Linked DNA regions of Homo sapiens: region 2 is linked to region 1. Evidence: fine-mapped expression QTL. Tissue or cell type: tibial nerve. Region 1 holds a variant in brackets; the other region holds the start of a gene. All regions are shown on one strand. Distances are from middle to middle.

The links. PIP is the estimated chance that this variant, and not a neighbour inherited with it, causes the effect.
Region 2: CYP2D6 starts here. The variant in region 1 is fine-mapped to the expression of CYP2D6 in tibial nerve (GTEx, PIP above 0.99).

The regions. Positions count from the first base shown.
Region 1 is chr22:43,065,744-43,073,743 of GRCh38, forward strand. TTLL1 (TTL family tubulin polyglutamylase complex subunit L1) reads right to left here. Exons shown (of 11, transcript NM_012263.5): 4 at 3,893-4,101; 5 at 2,667-2,847. Among named protein-coding and RNA genes, the nearest start is that of TTLL1, 20 kb to the right of the region's middle. The variant T/C (reference allele first, on the strand shown) is at 3,344.
Region 2 is chr22:42,126,319-42,134,446 of GRCh38, forward strand. CYP2D6 (cytochrome P450 family 2 subfamily D member 6 (gene/pseudogene)) reads right to left here and starts at 4,492. Exons shown (of 9, transcript NM_000106.6): 1 at 4,294-4,492; 2 at 3,420-3,591; 3 at 2,715-2,867; 4 at 2,466-2,626; 5 at 1,856-2,032; 6 at 1,524-1,665; 7 at 1,129-1,316; 8 at 533-674; 9 at 181-434. The coding sequence starts at 4,473. The coding sequence ends at 256. RefSeq lists promoters at 4,498-4,964, 4,551-6,083 and a cis regulatory region at 5,777-5,788.

The sequences.
Region 1 (8,000 bases):
TCAGTTTGCTAACTTTAACAATTCTGGTAGGGGATGCTGATAAGGGGGGAGGCCGTGCATGTGTGGGGAAGGGGTATAGGAAAAAAAAAATCTCTGTATCTTCTTCAATTGTGCAGTAAACCTAAAACTGCTCTAAAAAAATCAAGCTACTGGAGGCCTGTAATCCCAGCACTTTGGGAAGCCGAGGCAGGAGGATCACGAGGTCAGGAGTTCAAGACCAGCCTAACCAACATGGTGAAACCCTGTCTCTACTAAAAATACAAAAATTAGCCAGGTGTGGTGGCGGGTGCCTGTAGTCCCAGCTACTCAGGAGGCTGAGGCAGGAGAATCGCTTGAACCTGGGACGTGGAGGTTGCAGTGAGCTGAGATCGCACCACTGCAGTCCAGCCTGGGAGACAGAGCGAGACACTGTCTCAAAAAAAAAAAAAATTAAAAAAAAAATCAAGCTACTAGAAAAAAAATGGATGGTAAAGACCAAAGGTGCATCTCGTCAGCTGGCAACACGCTCCCGGCCTCTCACTGTGAGGGGCTGGGTCATCAGGAAGGAAATGGGGGTGGGGTGTATCCATGGAGGACACACCCCCTGCCCCAGGGGACAGTGCAAGCAGCTGCAGGACAGTCCCCAGGAGTCCACTCAGGGAAATGCTCCTCGGGCCTGGCCATCTGGGGGCTAGCAAAGTGTAATTAGATTTAAGCATGGCCGGGCATGGTGGCTGACACCTGTAGTCCCAGCACTTTGGGAGGCTGAGGCAGGCAGATCACTTGAGCCCGGGAATTTGAGATCAACCTGGGCAACATGATGAAACCCTGCCTCTACAAAAAAGAAAAATTAGCCAGGTGTGGTCGTGTGTACCTATAGTCTCAGCTACTCAGGAGGCTGAGGTGGGAGGATCGCTTGGGCCTAGGAGGTTGAGGTTGCAGTGAGCCATGATCCCGTCTTAAAAAAAAAAAAATTTTTTTTTAGGCCACACACAGTGGCTCACCCCCTGTAATACTAGCACTTTGGGAGGCCAAGGTGGGTGGATCACTTGAGGTCAAGAGTTAGAGACCAGCCTGGCCAACATGGTAAAACCCCATCTCTACTAAAAATAAAAAAATTAGCCAGGCATGGTGGGTGCCTGTGATCCCAGCTACTTGGGAGGCTGAGGTAGGCAGATCGCTTGAACCTGGGAGGCGTGAGGTTGCAGTGAGCTGAGATTGTACCACTGTACTCCAGCCTGGGCAACAGAGTGAGACTCCATCTCAAAAGAAAAAAAAAAAAGTAAACATGCTATAAAATGAGAAGGTGTCTCCTGTCACCCTGGGAACTCCTGACAAGTGAGTCATCTCCCCACTGGAAAAGGATCAGACAGAAGCTTTGCCCCGGTGGGCCCCGGGCACTTCTGAGCAGCTGAGAAAAAACAAAGACAGAGAAGCCAGCAGACCCAGGCCCCTGGGCTTGCCACGAGGCCACTGCCCCACCACTTGCTCGGCTGTGCCCATCGGCTGTGCCCGGCTCCTCCCAGATGCTTCATATTTCACATGTGTTAACTCGTTCCATCCCCATCACAACCCCATGGCAGTGGTGCTGCTGGTGTCCCCGGTTTACTCAGATGGAGAATGTAAGACATGGAGAGTCTGAAGAACAAAATACGCTCAGCCACTTCGTGTGAGACTGGGCTTCAAACCCAGGACCCTAGGGCCACGAGTCCCAGGACTTTGGCAGGTGCCTCGCTGCCTCAGAACCACCACGACTGAGCGGTTCTCACACCAGCCTGTAATCAAAAAGTGGCTGCAGGCCCTGGCCCATGACCTACACCCTTCTTCATGGCCTGCCTTGGGCAGAGTCTGGGACTAATCACACGAAGACAACCACAGAACCCCACCGTGACGCCACGTGACAGATGACGCACGCCTGTAAAAGCAAGCATGGGCTGTGTGGCTCATGGCCAAAGACCACAGAACAGGCCAGGAACAGTGAATCACGCCTGTAATCCCAGCACTTTGGGAGGCCGAGGTGGGTGGATCACCCTGAGGTCAGGAGTTTGAGACCAGCCTGGCTAACAGGGCAAAACCCCACCTCTCTCTCTTTCTTTTTTTTAGACAGAATCTCACTCTGTCACCCAGGCTGGAGTGCATGGCGCGATCTCAGCTCACTGCAACCTCTGCCTTCTGGGTTCAAGCGATTCTCCTGCCTCAGCCTCCTGAGTAGATGGGATTACAGGCACCTGCCACCTCACCTGGCTAATTTTTTTTTTTTTTTTTGTATTTTTAGTAGAGATGGAGTTTCGCCATCTTGGCCAGGCTGGTCTTGATCTCCTGACCTCATGATCCACCCACCTCGGCCTCCCAAAGGGCTGAGATTACAGGCATGAGCCACCATGCCCAGCCGCAAAACCCCATCTCTATTTAAAAAAAAAAAACTCTATTAAAAAAATACAAAAATTAGCTGGGCGTGGTGACGCATGCCTGTAATCCCAACTACTCGGGAGGCTGAAGCAGGAGAATCGCTTGAACCCAGAAGGCGGAGGTTGCAGTGAGCTGAGATTGTGCCACTGTAATCCTGCCTGGGCGACAGAGTGAGACTCTGTCAAAAAAAAACCAAACAAAAACCCACAAAGACTGCGAACAGCATAAAACGGTGAACTGGGACCTGGCACACAAAGTGGGTGGCTGCCCACACTTACGAAGATGTCTTGCTGTCCCGGGACCACTTTTTGATCTGTGAGAGCTTGTTGATAAGGAAGATGCCCTTTCCCTGGGCCTTGCCACAAGGCTTCATGATCCAGGTGCTGGACGGGCTCTTCCGGAACTCCTCTACAAACAGGTTGTAGTCAGCGGGCAGCATATAGGTGACTGGAACAAAGTCTGCAAGGCAAAGACACCCAGCACTGGTAAGCAGCCAGCCCAACAGTGGCCATGAACAGAAAGATCTTGCCCTTGCCTTTCCAGGGCCTGTGGGCTGAGTGTCCCCCACCGCAACCCAGCAGCTAACAGAACAAGGGCCTCTGCTGCACAATCCCTGGGCAACACTCACAAGTTACATTTATAGAGCCTACCTAAGCACCTTACAAACCTGTATTTTTCAATCCCCACGGCCACCTGGGAGCTACTGTAAACCCTGTAATAATTCCCATTTAGCAGACGAGGAAACTGAGGCCCAGGGAGATCAGATAGAGAATTCTACCCAGGTTTGTGAAGAAATCTGAAACTATTCAGTCCAGCTTTTATCCCGGACTTGGACAGGGACACACTGTCTTCCCTGGGTATAGCCAGACACAGTCATGAGCCCTCGTGGCAGCCTGTGGCTCAAGAAGTATTTCCCCAGGCTGAGCGCTGAGGGCATCCTCTGGCTTACACAAAG[T/C]CCATGCTGGCTGGGTGTGGTGGCTCACGTCTATAATCCCAGCACTTTGGGAGGCAGAAGCGGGTGGATCACAAGGTCAGGAGTTCGAGACCAGCCTGGCCAATATGGTGAAATCCCATCTCTACTAAAAATACAAAAAAAAAAAAAAAAAAAAAATTAGTCGGGCATGGTAGAGGGCACCAGTAGTCCCAGCTACTTGGGAGGCTGAGGCAGGAGAATTGCTTGAACTCAGGAGGCGGAGGTTGCAGTGAGCTGAGATCGCGCCACTACACTCCAGCCTGGATGACAGAGTGAGATTCTGTCTCAAAAAAAAAAAAAAAAAAACGCCATGCCAGGCAATTCCCAAGGCACTCACAGAAACTAGGATGCCACACTCAGGCCCCTCCTTCTCCCTCATTCTGGAGACACCTGAAATGAAACAGGTGCCACCACAACTCGCATGGACATGCTCACGCATCAAAGCCAACAGTCACCACCTCAGCGCCTCGCGCCCCAAAGAAAAAATTCAGCTGTTTACTGAAAACATGAGCCGGTGGAAGACGCACAAACCCAGATAGAGGTATTTTCCATTTTCATCTTTTTCTGCCAGAGGACTCCCTTCTTTCTCCAGCTCCTTCCTGTATCTTTTGATGTTCTTCACCATCAGGTCCTTCCGGGTCAGTTCATAGTGGTTTGGAAAATGGTTGACTATTTGGTCATCTGAGAGCCGATATCCAGCTTCAACGCTGAACACATTTCGGATGGTTTGCACACTCATCCTGAAAGAGATGAGCAGGAGAGACACTTGGCAGTGATGTCTGTGTGGCAGAAGTCCTTTGTTCCCGTCCCCGCAAACACCCTGAACCCTCAGCACCCTTCACCACTACTCCCACATCCCCTGGCACCTGAGCCAGGGGTTGCCCGGCCCACAGCAGCAGAGAATGGGTGCCCAGGGACAGGCCGGGACCCAAGTGGTGTGAGGGCCAGGAGCTGTGCTGATTCTGAGCTGTTTCCCTCTCTGGCCCGGAGCAGGCACTCAATAGATGTTTATTGATTAGTGATAACACGGATTAATGATAACACTGTCAACAAATAAAAGATATACCCTTTTCAGACTCTGAAGTCAGGAAACTCATTTAAACAGGATCTGTACCGAAATTCAGGAAGGTCAAGGAGCCTTTAAAAACAAAATCACAGGGGTTATTTAAGGGCCCTGAGTCAGTATTTGATATTCTTGGAGAGTCTGCTGAAGGGGCAAGTTGGGGACGACAGAGTTGAAAGAGAAATAGATTCCTTCTGAGCCTCTGAGAAAGCCACGGTCTCCCCGCCACACGCCTGTCCTCACCAACCCCCAGAGAAGCAGGGAAGGGGTACGGAGGAAGGGCTGGCCCCTGCTCAGAGCCAGAGTCACAAAACATGGCAAGTGGCCCCAGCCTCTTGCACTGTGGTCCCTGTGCCCCCAGCCTACCCCCACCCCACAGCACCACCCTAGAGAGGGTGCCCGGAGCCCCCGAAGGGTTGCTGTGGATTCCAGGATGGCTAGAATAAAGGGAATCTTTTTTGACTTTTTATTATGGAAAACCTCCATCACACTCAGAAGGAGAGAGAAAGCGTTAAGGGACCCCCATTGCCCCACTTCACCAGTTAACGGCACGTGGCCAGTCTCGTTTAGTCTGAACCTCCACCCCCCTCAGCACTGGCATGTTCTGAACCAATTCCCAGACATCATATTATTTCATCCAAAGCATTTCTGTAAGATTCTCTAACGGTTCAAGACTCCATGTTTAATTATGTGATATCCTATTTTATATAATTATCAGAACTAAAAAAGCAATATGTATGTATGTATGTATGTATTTATTTTTGAGACAGGGTCTCGCTCTGTTGCCCAGGCCGGGGTGTCATGACTTGATCTCGCCGCACTGCAACCTCTGCCTCCCAGGCTCAAGCAATCCTCCTCTCTCAGCTTCCCAAGTAGCTGGGACTACAGGAAGGGGCCACCGTGTCCTGCTAAATTTTTATAATTTTTTTTGTAGAGATGGGGATTTGCCATGTTGCCCAGGCTGGTCTCAAACTCCTGGATTCAACTGATCCTGCCGCCTCAGCCTCCCAAAGTGCTGCAGTTACAGGTGTGAGCCACCGTGCTTGGCAACGGCAGGAATACTTCTATAGGGACAAGCTTCCCTTCATCAACAATCTAGGTGCCTCAAGAACAGTTCATACACAAAACACAGAATCAGTGCTTGATTCTTTCCCTTTATTTATCAGTTTTTCAAAATAAAGAGCTGGCCGGGCGCAGTGGCTCACGTCTGTAATCCAGCACTTTTGTTTTGTTTTGTTTTGTTTTGTTTATTTGTTTTTGGAGATAGAGTTTTACTCTGTTGCCCAGGCTGGAGTGCAGTGGCACGATCTTGGCTCACTGCAACCTCTGCCTCGCAGGTTCGAGCCATTCTCCTGCCTCAGCCTCCTGAGTAGCTGGGATTACAGACATGAACCACCACACACCGCTAATTGTTATATTTTTAGTAGAGACGGGGTTTTGCCACGTTGGCCAGGCTGGTCTCAAACTCCTGACCTCAGGTGATCTGCCCGACTTGGCTTCCCACAGTGCTAGGATTGCAGGCGTGAGCCACCATGCCGGCCTATAATCCAGCACTTTGGAAGGCTGAGAATTGGGGCAGGGCTCAGCTGAGCAATTCTACTTCTCCTTGTGGCACTGACTGAGGTCATTCAGAAGTGTAGAGCCAGCCGATGGGATGAGCTGGGGGTCCCAGAAGGCTTTCTTCATGTCTAACACCTTGGCAGGCCTAGCTGGAGGCTGGAAGGTGGGCACAGCTGCACTGCCATGTACAACACCTACCTGTGGCCGCTGTGGCACGAGGGCTTCAGGATGGCACCTTCTCACAGGACAGCTCAGGGCACCCACATGTTTCCAACAGAGGAATTGGCCTGGGCCCAGGCATGTATGATTTTTACTGTATTCCACTGGTCAATGTGGTCAAAGAGTCTTTCACGAGGAAAGGACAAAGACCTCAACTTTAGAGTGAAGTAGTGGCAAGAACTTCGCAACCATCTTTATTTTCTTTTTCTTTTTTTTTTTTTTTTTGAGACGGAGTCTTGCTCTGTCGCCCAGGCTGGAGTGTAGTGGCGTGACCTCGGCTCACTGCAATCTCCGCCTCCCGGGTTCACGCCATTCTCCTGTCTCAGCCTCCCGAGTAGCTGGGACTACCGGCACTCGCCACCACGCCCGGATAATTTTTTTGTATTTTTAGTAGAGATGAGGTTTCACTGTGTTAGCCTGGATAGTCTCGATCTCCTGACCTTGTGATCCGCCCATCTCGGCCTCCCAAAGTGCTGGGATTACAGGCGTGAGCCACCGCGCCTGGCCACCATCTTTATTTTCTCTCTTTCTTTCTTTCTTTTAGAGACAAGGTCTCACTCTGTTGCCCAGGCTGGAGTGCAGTAGCACAATCAAGGCTCACTGTAGTCTTGACCTCCTGGGCTCAAGCAAGCCTCCCACCTCAGCCTCTCAAGTAGCTGGGGCTACAGGCACGAACCACTATGCCTGGATAATTTTTGTATTTGTTTGTAGAGATGAGGTTTCACCATTTGCACAGGCTGGTGTCAAACTCCTGGGCTCAAGAGATCTGTCTGCCTCCACCTCCCAAAAGGCTGGGATTACAGGCATGAGTCACTGCACCCAGGCACCCCACCACCCAGCTAATTTTTTTGAGACAGGGTCTCAGTATACTGCCCAGGCTGGTCTCAAACTCCTCGCAAGGTGCTGGGATTACAGGCATGAGCCACTGTGCCCAAGAGTTCTATGCCCTGGCCTGTGGCCATCTTTAATCTGCCACAAATTGGGTATGTGGCTTTTGGGGTATTTTTCTGTTTGCAGTTGTATGAACTTATAAATTCAAATACATATGATAAGTTTCAATTCATTGCAATTATTCTTTTTTTTTTTTTGAGACAGTCTTGCTGTGTCGCCCAGGCTGGAGTGCAGTGGTGCGATCTTAGCTAACTGCAACCTCCGCCTCCTGGGTTCAAGCAATTCTCCCTGCCTCAGCCTCTCAAGTAGCTGGGATTACAGGCGCCTGCCACTAAGCCCAGCTAATTTTTGTATTTTTAGTAGAGACAGGGTTTCACCATGTTGGCCATGGTTGGCCAGGCTGGTCTCAAACTCCTGACCTCAGGTGATCCACCTGCCTGGGCATCCCAAGGTGCTGAGATTATAGGTGTGAGCCACTGCGCCCGGTCTATTTATTTATTTATTTATTTATTTATTTATTTATTTATTTTATTTTTTGAGGTACAGTCTCACTCTGTCACCCAGGCTGGAGTGCAGTGGTGTGATTTCAGCTCACTGCAACCTCTGCCTCCCAGGTTGAGGCCATTTGCCTGCCTCAGCCTCCCGGGCAGCTAGGATTACAGGTGCGCACCACCACACCCAGATAATTTTTGTATTTTTGTAGTGATGGGGTTTCACCAAGTTGGCTAGGCTGGTCTCCAACTCCTGACCTCAGGTGATGCACCCGCCTTGGCCTCCCAAAGTGCTGGGATTACAGGCATGAGCCGCTGTGCCCAGCCCATCATAATTATTTTAACGGCTGCACCATAATCCACTCAAAGTACTTAACCCACCCCCCCATACTGTTTAACATTTAGTTGTTTCCAG
Region 2 (8,128 bases), 940 kb before region 1:
GCAGTCAGAGTTGGGTCAGTGGGGGACATGGGATTATGGGCAAGGGTAACTGACATCTGCTCAGCCTCAACGTACCCCTGTCTCAAATGCGGCCAGGCGGTGGGGTAAGCAGGAATGAGGCAGGGGTGGGGTTGCCCTGAGGAGGATGATCCCAACGAGGGCGTGAGCAGGGGACCCGAGTTGGAACTACCACATTGCTTTATTGTACATTAGAGCCTCTGGCTAGGGAGCAGGCTGGGGACTAGGTACCCCATTCTAGCGGGGCACAGCACAAAGCTCATAGGGGGATGGGCTCACCAGGAAAGCAAAGACACCATGGTGGCTGGGCCGGGGCTGTCCAGTGGGCACCGAGAAGCTGAAGTGCTGCAGCAGGGAGGTGAAGAAGAGGAAGAGCTCCATGCGGGCCAGGGGCTCCCCGAGGCATGCACGGCGGCCTGTGGGGAGGGGAGGGGCGTCAGTGAGCCTGGCTCCTGGGTGATACCCCTGCAAGACTCCACGGAAGGGGACAGGGAGCCGGGCTCCCCACAGGCACCTGCTGAGAAAGGCAGGAAGGCCTCCGGCTTCACAAAGTGGCCCTGGGCATCCAGGAAGTGTTCGGGGTGGAAGCGGAAGGGCTTCTCCCAGACGGCCTCATCCTTCAGCACCGATGACAGGTTGGTGATGAGTGTCGTTCCCTGGGCAGGAGATGCAGGGTGAGAGTGGGGACTGGACTCTAGGATGCTGGGACCCCTGCCACCAAACACACGGGGGACACACACTGCCTGGCACACAGCTGGACTCTGTCAACTAGTCCTGCGCCCGAGAAGCTCCACAGTACCCTCTCCGACCCCACAGCAGGGCGCAGTCACACCTCTCAGAGGCACCCACACTGCCCCCTCTCCCTGCAGGCGTTGGGTCCTCCAACATTCTGGCAGGTCCTGGTTTGTCTCCCCACTAGACGGGGGCTCTGGATGGACAGGCCAGCCCTGCCTATACTCTGGACCCCCCACCCAAGTGGGGACAGTCAGTGTGGTGGCATTGAGGACTAGGTGGCCAGGGTTCCTAGAGTGGGCCCACCTGGCAGTAGCCATGCTGGGGCTATCACCAGGTGCTGGTGCTGAGCTGGGGTGAGGAGGGCGCCAGGCCTACCTTAGGGATGCGGAAGCCCTGTACTTCGATGTCACGGGATGTCATATGGGTCACACCCAGGGGGACGATGTCCCCAAAGCGCTGCACCTCATGAATCACGGCAGTGGTGTAGGGCATGTGAGCCTGGTCACCCATCTCTGGTCGCCGCACCTGCCCTATCACGTCGTCGATCTCCTGTTGGACACGGCCTGGACAGACATGCGTCCCCACAATGGGTCAGCACCCAGGGGGTCCGGCCCTGACACTCCTTCTTGCCTCCTATGTTGGAGGAGGTCAGGCTTACAGGATCCTGGTCAAGCCTGTGCTTGGAGCCCCGGGTGTCCCAGCAAAGTTCATGGGCCCCCGCCTGTACCCTTCCTCCCTCGGCCCCTGCACTGTTTCCCAGATGGGCTCACGCTGCACATCCGGATGTAGGATCATGAGCAGGAGGCCCCAGGCCAGCGTGGTCGAGGTGGTCACCATCCCGGCAGAGAACAGGTCAGCCACCACTATGCGCAGGTTCTCATCATTGAAGCTGCTCTCAGGGTTCCCCTTGGCCTGAGCAGGGCCGAGAGCATACTCGGGACAGAACGGGGTAGCCCCCAAATGACCTCCAATTCTGCACCTGTCAGCCCAGATGCGGCTCGCCGGGTGATGCACTGGTCCAACCTTTTGCCCAGCCTCCCCTCATTCCTCCTGGGACGCTCAACCCACCACCCTTGCCCCCCACCGTGGCAGCCACTCTCACCTTCTCCATCTCTGCCAGGAAGGCCTCAGTCAGGTCTCGGGGGGGCTGGGCTGGGTCCCAGGTCATCCTGTGCTCAGTTAGCAGCTCATCCAGCTGGGTCAGGAAAGCCTTTTGGAAGCGTAGGACCTTGCCAGCCAGCGCTGGGATATGCAGGAGGACGGGGACAGCATTCAGCACCTACACCAGACAGAACGGGGTCTCAATCCCTCCTGTGCTCTGCGTTCACCTGGACAAGTCTCAGGCCCCAGCCATCTCCAGGTAGACCCAGGGCCTGCCTGTCCTTACCACTGACCTCACCAAGTCCCTCCCCAAGTGCCAGCCTCCACCCTCTCTCCTTGCCCAGAGGAGAAACCTAAAATCGAAATCTCTGACGTGGATAGGAGGTACAGAGTCCTTGGCCTCTCCTGGTGCCCCCTGACCCGGGCACACCTCTCCCACGACCATGTCTGAGATGTCCCCTCCTCCTCCAGGCCCTTCTTACAGTGGGGTCTCCTGGAATGTCCTTTCCCAAACCCATCTATGCAAATCCTGCTCTTCCGAGGCCCCAGTCCAGCCCCGGCACCTCTCGGGAGCTCGCCCTGCAGAGACTCCTCGGTCTCTCGCTCCGCACCTCGCGCAGAAAGCCCGACTCCTCCTTCAGTCCCTCCTGAGCTAGGTCCAGCAGCCTGAGGAAGCGAGGGTCGTCGTACTCGAAGCGGCGCCCGCAGGTGAGGGAGGCGATCACGTTGCTCACGGCTTTGTCCAAGAGACCGTTGGGGCGAAAGGGGCGTCCTGGGGGTGGGAGATGCGGGTAAGGGGTCGCCTTCCCCGTCCCCCGCCTTCCCAGTTCCCGCTTTGTGCCCTTCTGCCCATCACCCACCGGAGTGGTTGGCGAAGGCGGCACAAAGGCAGGCGGCCTCCTCGGTCACCCACTGCTCCAGCGACTTCTTGCCCAGGCCCAAGTTGCGCAAGGTGGACACGGAGAAGCGCCTCTGCTCGCGCCACGCGGGCCCATAGCGCGCCAGGAACACCCCTGGGGGTGGGACGGGCACGTGCGCGTGGCCATGAAGGCATTAGCCCCACCATCCACCACCCACTCCAACCCTATGCTCCCCCTGGTCTCCCGCAGTCCCTGGCTCTGTCCAGCTGGTCACAGGGCCCACTCTTTGTGCATCCACCTTGCTCCCTTGGCTGGGGCAGGGCTTTGCCCCACCTCGTCTCTGCCCACCCTGACCGCCTTTGCACTCAGGGAAGACCCCGCGGGCCCCGCGCCACCCACACTGAGCTTACAGCACAGGTGCGGTCCCCGCCCCCCACTTCGACACCGGATTCCAGCTGGGAAATGCGCCAGCCTCACCCATTGGGCTCCTGCCAGGTCTCGGCAGTGGCCCCGCCCACTCGTCACAAGCCCCGCCCTCGTCCCCATGCTCACACCTCCCTAGTGCAGGTGGTTTCTTGGCCCGCTGTCCCCACTCGCTGGCCTGTTTCATGTCCACGACCCCGCGCCCTCTCTGCCCAGCTCGGACTACGGTCATCACCCACCCGGGTCCCACGGAAATCTGTCTCTGTCCCCACCGCTGCTTGCCTTGGGAACGCGGCCCGAAACCCAGGATCTGGGTGATGGGCACAGGCGGGCGGTCGGCGGTGTCCTCGCCGTGGGTCACCAGCGCCTCGCGCACGGCCGCCAGCCCATTGAGCACGACCACCGGCGTCCAGGCCAGCTGCAGGCTGAACACGTCCCCGAAGCGGCGCCGCAACTGCAGAGGGAGGGTCAGGGCCTCTTGTCAAGCCAGGATCACCCCAGACTACAGGTCCTAGTCCTATTTGAACCTTGGACGACCCCCGGGGCTACCAGGAGTGAGCAGGTGGAAGGAGGAGACCCAGCCTCCTGATCGTGGGGCGGGGGTGGGGGTCACACCTTCTGTGATGGAGGAACTCAGTTTGGATGCGTCACCCAGGTATGACCTTGCAAGAGTCACCAAAATTGCCGAGAGGCCCCAGTTAGCATCCCATTCCCAGATGATGGTCCATGCCGGTGAGCAGTGAGGCCCGAGGACCCACAGTGCAAAAGGTTTGAACCGGGTCACTGCACCCCCTTCATCCTCGATTTCGTGATTTAAACGGCACTCAGGACTAACTCATCTTCCATTCCCAAGGCCTTTCCTTCTGGTGTCAGCAGAAGGGACTTTGTACTCCATAACATATGTTGCCCAATGGGCTTGCATGCCCACTGCCAAGTCCAGCTCCACCTCCAGGCCCTTGCCCTACTCTTCCTTGGCCTTTGGAAAATCCAGTCCTTCATGCCATGTATAAATGCCCTTCTCCAGGACGTCCCCCAAACCTGCTTCCCCTTCTCAGCCTGGCTTCTGGTCCAGCCTGTGGTTTCACCCACCATCCATGTTTGCTTCTGGTAGGGGAGCCTCAGCACCTCTGCCGCCCTCCAGGACCTCCTCCCTCACCTGGTCGAAGCAGTATGGTGTGTTCTGGAAGTCCACATGCAGCAGGTTGCCCAGCCCGGGCAGTGGCAGGGGGCCTGGTGGGTAGCGTGCAGCCCAGCGTTGGCGCCGGTGCATCAGGTCCACCAGGAGCAGGAAGATGGCCACTATCACGGCCAGGGGCACCAGTGCTTCTAGCCCCATACCTGCCTCACTACCAAATGGGCTCCTCTGGACACACCTGGCACCCCCACCCCACCAGGCACAGAGGACCAGGCAGGACACTCTCAGCACACCGAGCGCGTGACCCTTCCCTTATAAAGGGAGCTGATGATGGCCTTTGCCCTCTGCTGTGAGTGAACCTGCTGTGTTGACTGTGCTGCCAGTGGCAGAGTCAGGCCAGGGCGGGTATGGGCTGCTCCAGAGGTTCTTGCCCCTGCTTCCTGCTCCAGGCCCTTACCCAGGGTAGGCCGGTGGAGGGGCCTGGTCGGAGAAGTCACCCCCTCTCCCCACTCCAAGCTCCTGAAGCCTGCAAAGCCTTCTGGGATAACCAGGGTTTCAGTGGACCCGGCCATCCACCTCCCAGCTAGGCTCATACACCCTAATGTAGTCACAACCCCTCCTCCAGAACATGGCCTTGCCCTTTCCCTACCCCCACCTGCCCACTCCAGAGTGACCTTCAGCACCCTTATCTGTCACTGGCACTTACCTGGGGCCTTAGAGCTCCTGATGATGAGTGGCATCATGGGCCTGGTCCCTTCACTTCACCTTGCACTCTTGACATGCACAGACGCTATGCACACACCTGATGGTGCACAGATCTCTTGTCCACTCCCAGACACTTGTCCACTTGTTCACACTTGCAGGGACACGATTACACACGCAGAAAATCACCCACACAAAGACAATATTCACACATACACAGACTCACACTGACACTTAGGGCACACATTCTCTCTCACACACACCAGTCACACACACATACAGACCCGGCACCAAGTACCCCACTTCCCAGCCATGCCGGAGGTTTCCTGGATGGGACCACTCCTGTCCAGAGGCTGCTCCCAGCCCAGCCCACATTCCTGGGCTCTGGCCGGGCTATGGCTTCTTGTTTGCAACAGGGCTGTTCCCAGAGCTCCCAGTTGGTAGCCGGAAGGCCCTTGCCCCAGCCTGTGACAACATCCTCCCGGGCTGCCTGAGGGTCGTCCTCCTCCACTGCTTTCTGGCCTCCATGTTTCTGATTAGAAATCTGGTGGGAACGTTATGGAGGATCCTTTGTTCAGGATATGTTGCTTTATTTTTTTTTTCTTTAGACAGGGTCTCACTCTGTTGCCCAGGCCGGAGTGCAGTGGCAGGATCATGGCTCACTGCAGTCTCGACATCAAGTGGACCCCCTGCCTCCCAAGTAGCTGGGACTACAGGCACCACCCAGCCTAATTCTTTTTTTTTTTTTTTTTTTTTTGGAGACGGAGATTTCCTCTTGTTGCCCAGGCTGGTGGCTCCCCTCCATTGTGCAATGATGCAATCTCGGCTCACTACAACCTTCACCTCTAGGCTTCAAGCAATTCTCCTGCCTCAGCCTCCTAAGTAGCTGGGATTACAGGTGTGTGCCACCACGTCTAGCTTTTTGTATTTTCAGTAGAGATAGGGTTTCACCATGTTGGCCAGGCTAGTCTTGAACTCCTGACTTCAGGTGATCCACCCACCTCAGGCTCCCAAAGTGCTGGGATTATAGGCATGAGCCACCGCACCCAATCCCAGCTAATTTTGTATTTTTTGTAGAGACCGGGTTCTTCCAAGTTGTCCAGGCTGGTCTTGAATTCCTGGGGTGAAGCGATCCTCCCACCTGGGCCTCCCAAAGTGCTGGGATTACAGGCCTGAGCCACTGTGACTACCTGATACGTCTCTTCTCTCTTGCTGCTTTCAAAATCCTGTCTTTTGTGGGAGGGCAGCTGCCGAGCTCTGGACTTCTACGGGATCATCCACTGAGGACAGGAGGACCGGGCCCTCTACAGGTGGATTGTATGGCAGCTGCCATGCTTGGAGCCAGTGCTCACCGAGCACGTGGCGGCTGTGGAGCTGGACGCGGGGTTGATAAGTCCGCTGGGGGTGACGGGCTCATCCATGAGTGGTACTTGATGTGGCTGCAGAAGGCGGATGTGGTGGTGGCAGAAGTGACACAACTGTCCCTGGGTATAGGCTATGATCTGTGCCAGGCCACAGCCCTCAATAAGTGAATCCTGTGCCTGCTCCAGCCGCAGTCTGGTGGAGTGCTGTCGGCCATGATCTGGGAAGAGGCAGATGGCTCTGGGTTCCAGGTGTGGGACTACGGAGAGGGACAGGTGGAGGCCCTGCTGCATGGATAGGTTGAGGCTGATCCTCCCGAGCAGGTTGCCTCCCCTAACCCAACCATTGGACCTAATCCCATTTTATTAAATTCTTCTCATCCCAGACACTGCTCTAGTACCAGTCCTGGCTCTTTGCCCCAGGAGCAAATTAAAAGGTACATTTAAAATTCTAAAAAAAGAAAAATCTGTCTTTTGACAGTGATTATGATGATGCGTATGGCTGAAGATCTCTTTGAGTTTACCCTACTTGGAGTTTGATGAGCTTTTTGGATGTACAGATTAATATTTTTCATCAGATTTGGGAGGTTTTTCAGCCATTAATTCTTCAACTATTCCTTTACTCCTTTCTCCCTGTCTTCTTTCCTGGGACTCCCATTGCGTGTATGTCGGAAAGCTTGACGGCGTCTCCAGGTCTCTGGATCTCTGTGCATTGCTCTTCATGCTTGTTCCTGTTCCTCAGAGGGTACTACCTCAGGTGGCCTCTCTCCATAGTCACAGGCTCTTTCTTCCAATTGTTCCAATCTGCTCTTGGGCCCCTGGGATGAATTTTCATTTATTTTACCCTACAACTCCAGAATTTTTATTTGGTTCCTTTTTAAACTTTTTTTTTGTTTTTTGTTTTGTTTTGTTTTTTGGAGTATCGCTCTGTCACCCAGGCTGTAGTGCAGTGGTGCAATCTCGGCTCACTGCAATCTCTGCCTCTCGGGTTCAAGCGATTCTCCTGCCTCAGCCTCCCGAGTAGCTGGGATTACAGGCACGTGCCACCACGCCCGGCTAATTTTTGTATTTTAAGTAGAGACGGGGTTTCACCATGTTGGCCAGGCTGGTCTCAATCTCTTGACCTCATGATATGCCCGCCTCAGCCTCCCAAAGTGCTGGGATTATAGGCATGAGCCACCATGCCCAGCCCCTTTTTATAAGGTTCATCCCATTATTGATATTCTCTAATTGGTGAGACATTGTTCCCACACTTTCGTTAGTTCTTTTGACATGGTTCTTTTCTTTTTCTTGGGAGAGGGTCTCTCTGTCGCCCAAGCTGGAGTGCAGTGATGCAGTCATGGCTCACTGCAGCCTCAACTTCCTGGGCTGAAGTGATCCTCCTACCTCAGCATCCTGAGAGGCTGGGACCATAGGCAGCCAGCTAATTTTTTAAATTTTTTTGTAGAGATGGGGGTCTCACCACATTTCCCAAGCTGCTCTCAAACTCCTGGGCTCAAGCAATCCACGGGCCTCAGCTTCCCAGAGTGCTAGGATTATAGGTGTGAGCCACTGCACCAGGCCTACACGTGGTTTCTCCCTTTGAAGTACTAGCCAGGCCTGACCATGCTTAGCTTCCGAGATCAGCAGGTTCCAGCCGGTGCAGCCTCAGATGCAGCATGTTTTAGGTCTTTGAACATATTTAAATGAGCTGACTGAACGTCTTTGTCTAGCAATTGCAGCATCGGGCTGGTCCCATTGGTGACTTTTCCCGTGTCTGGGTCGTCCTTTCGGTTTCCTTTCCATGTCTCATA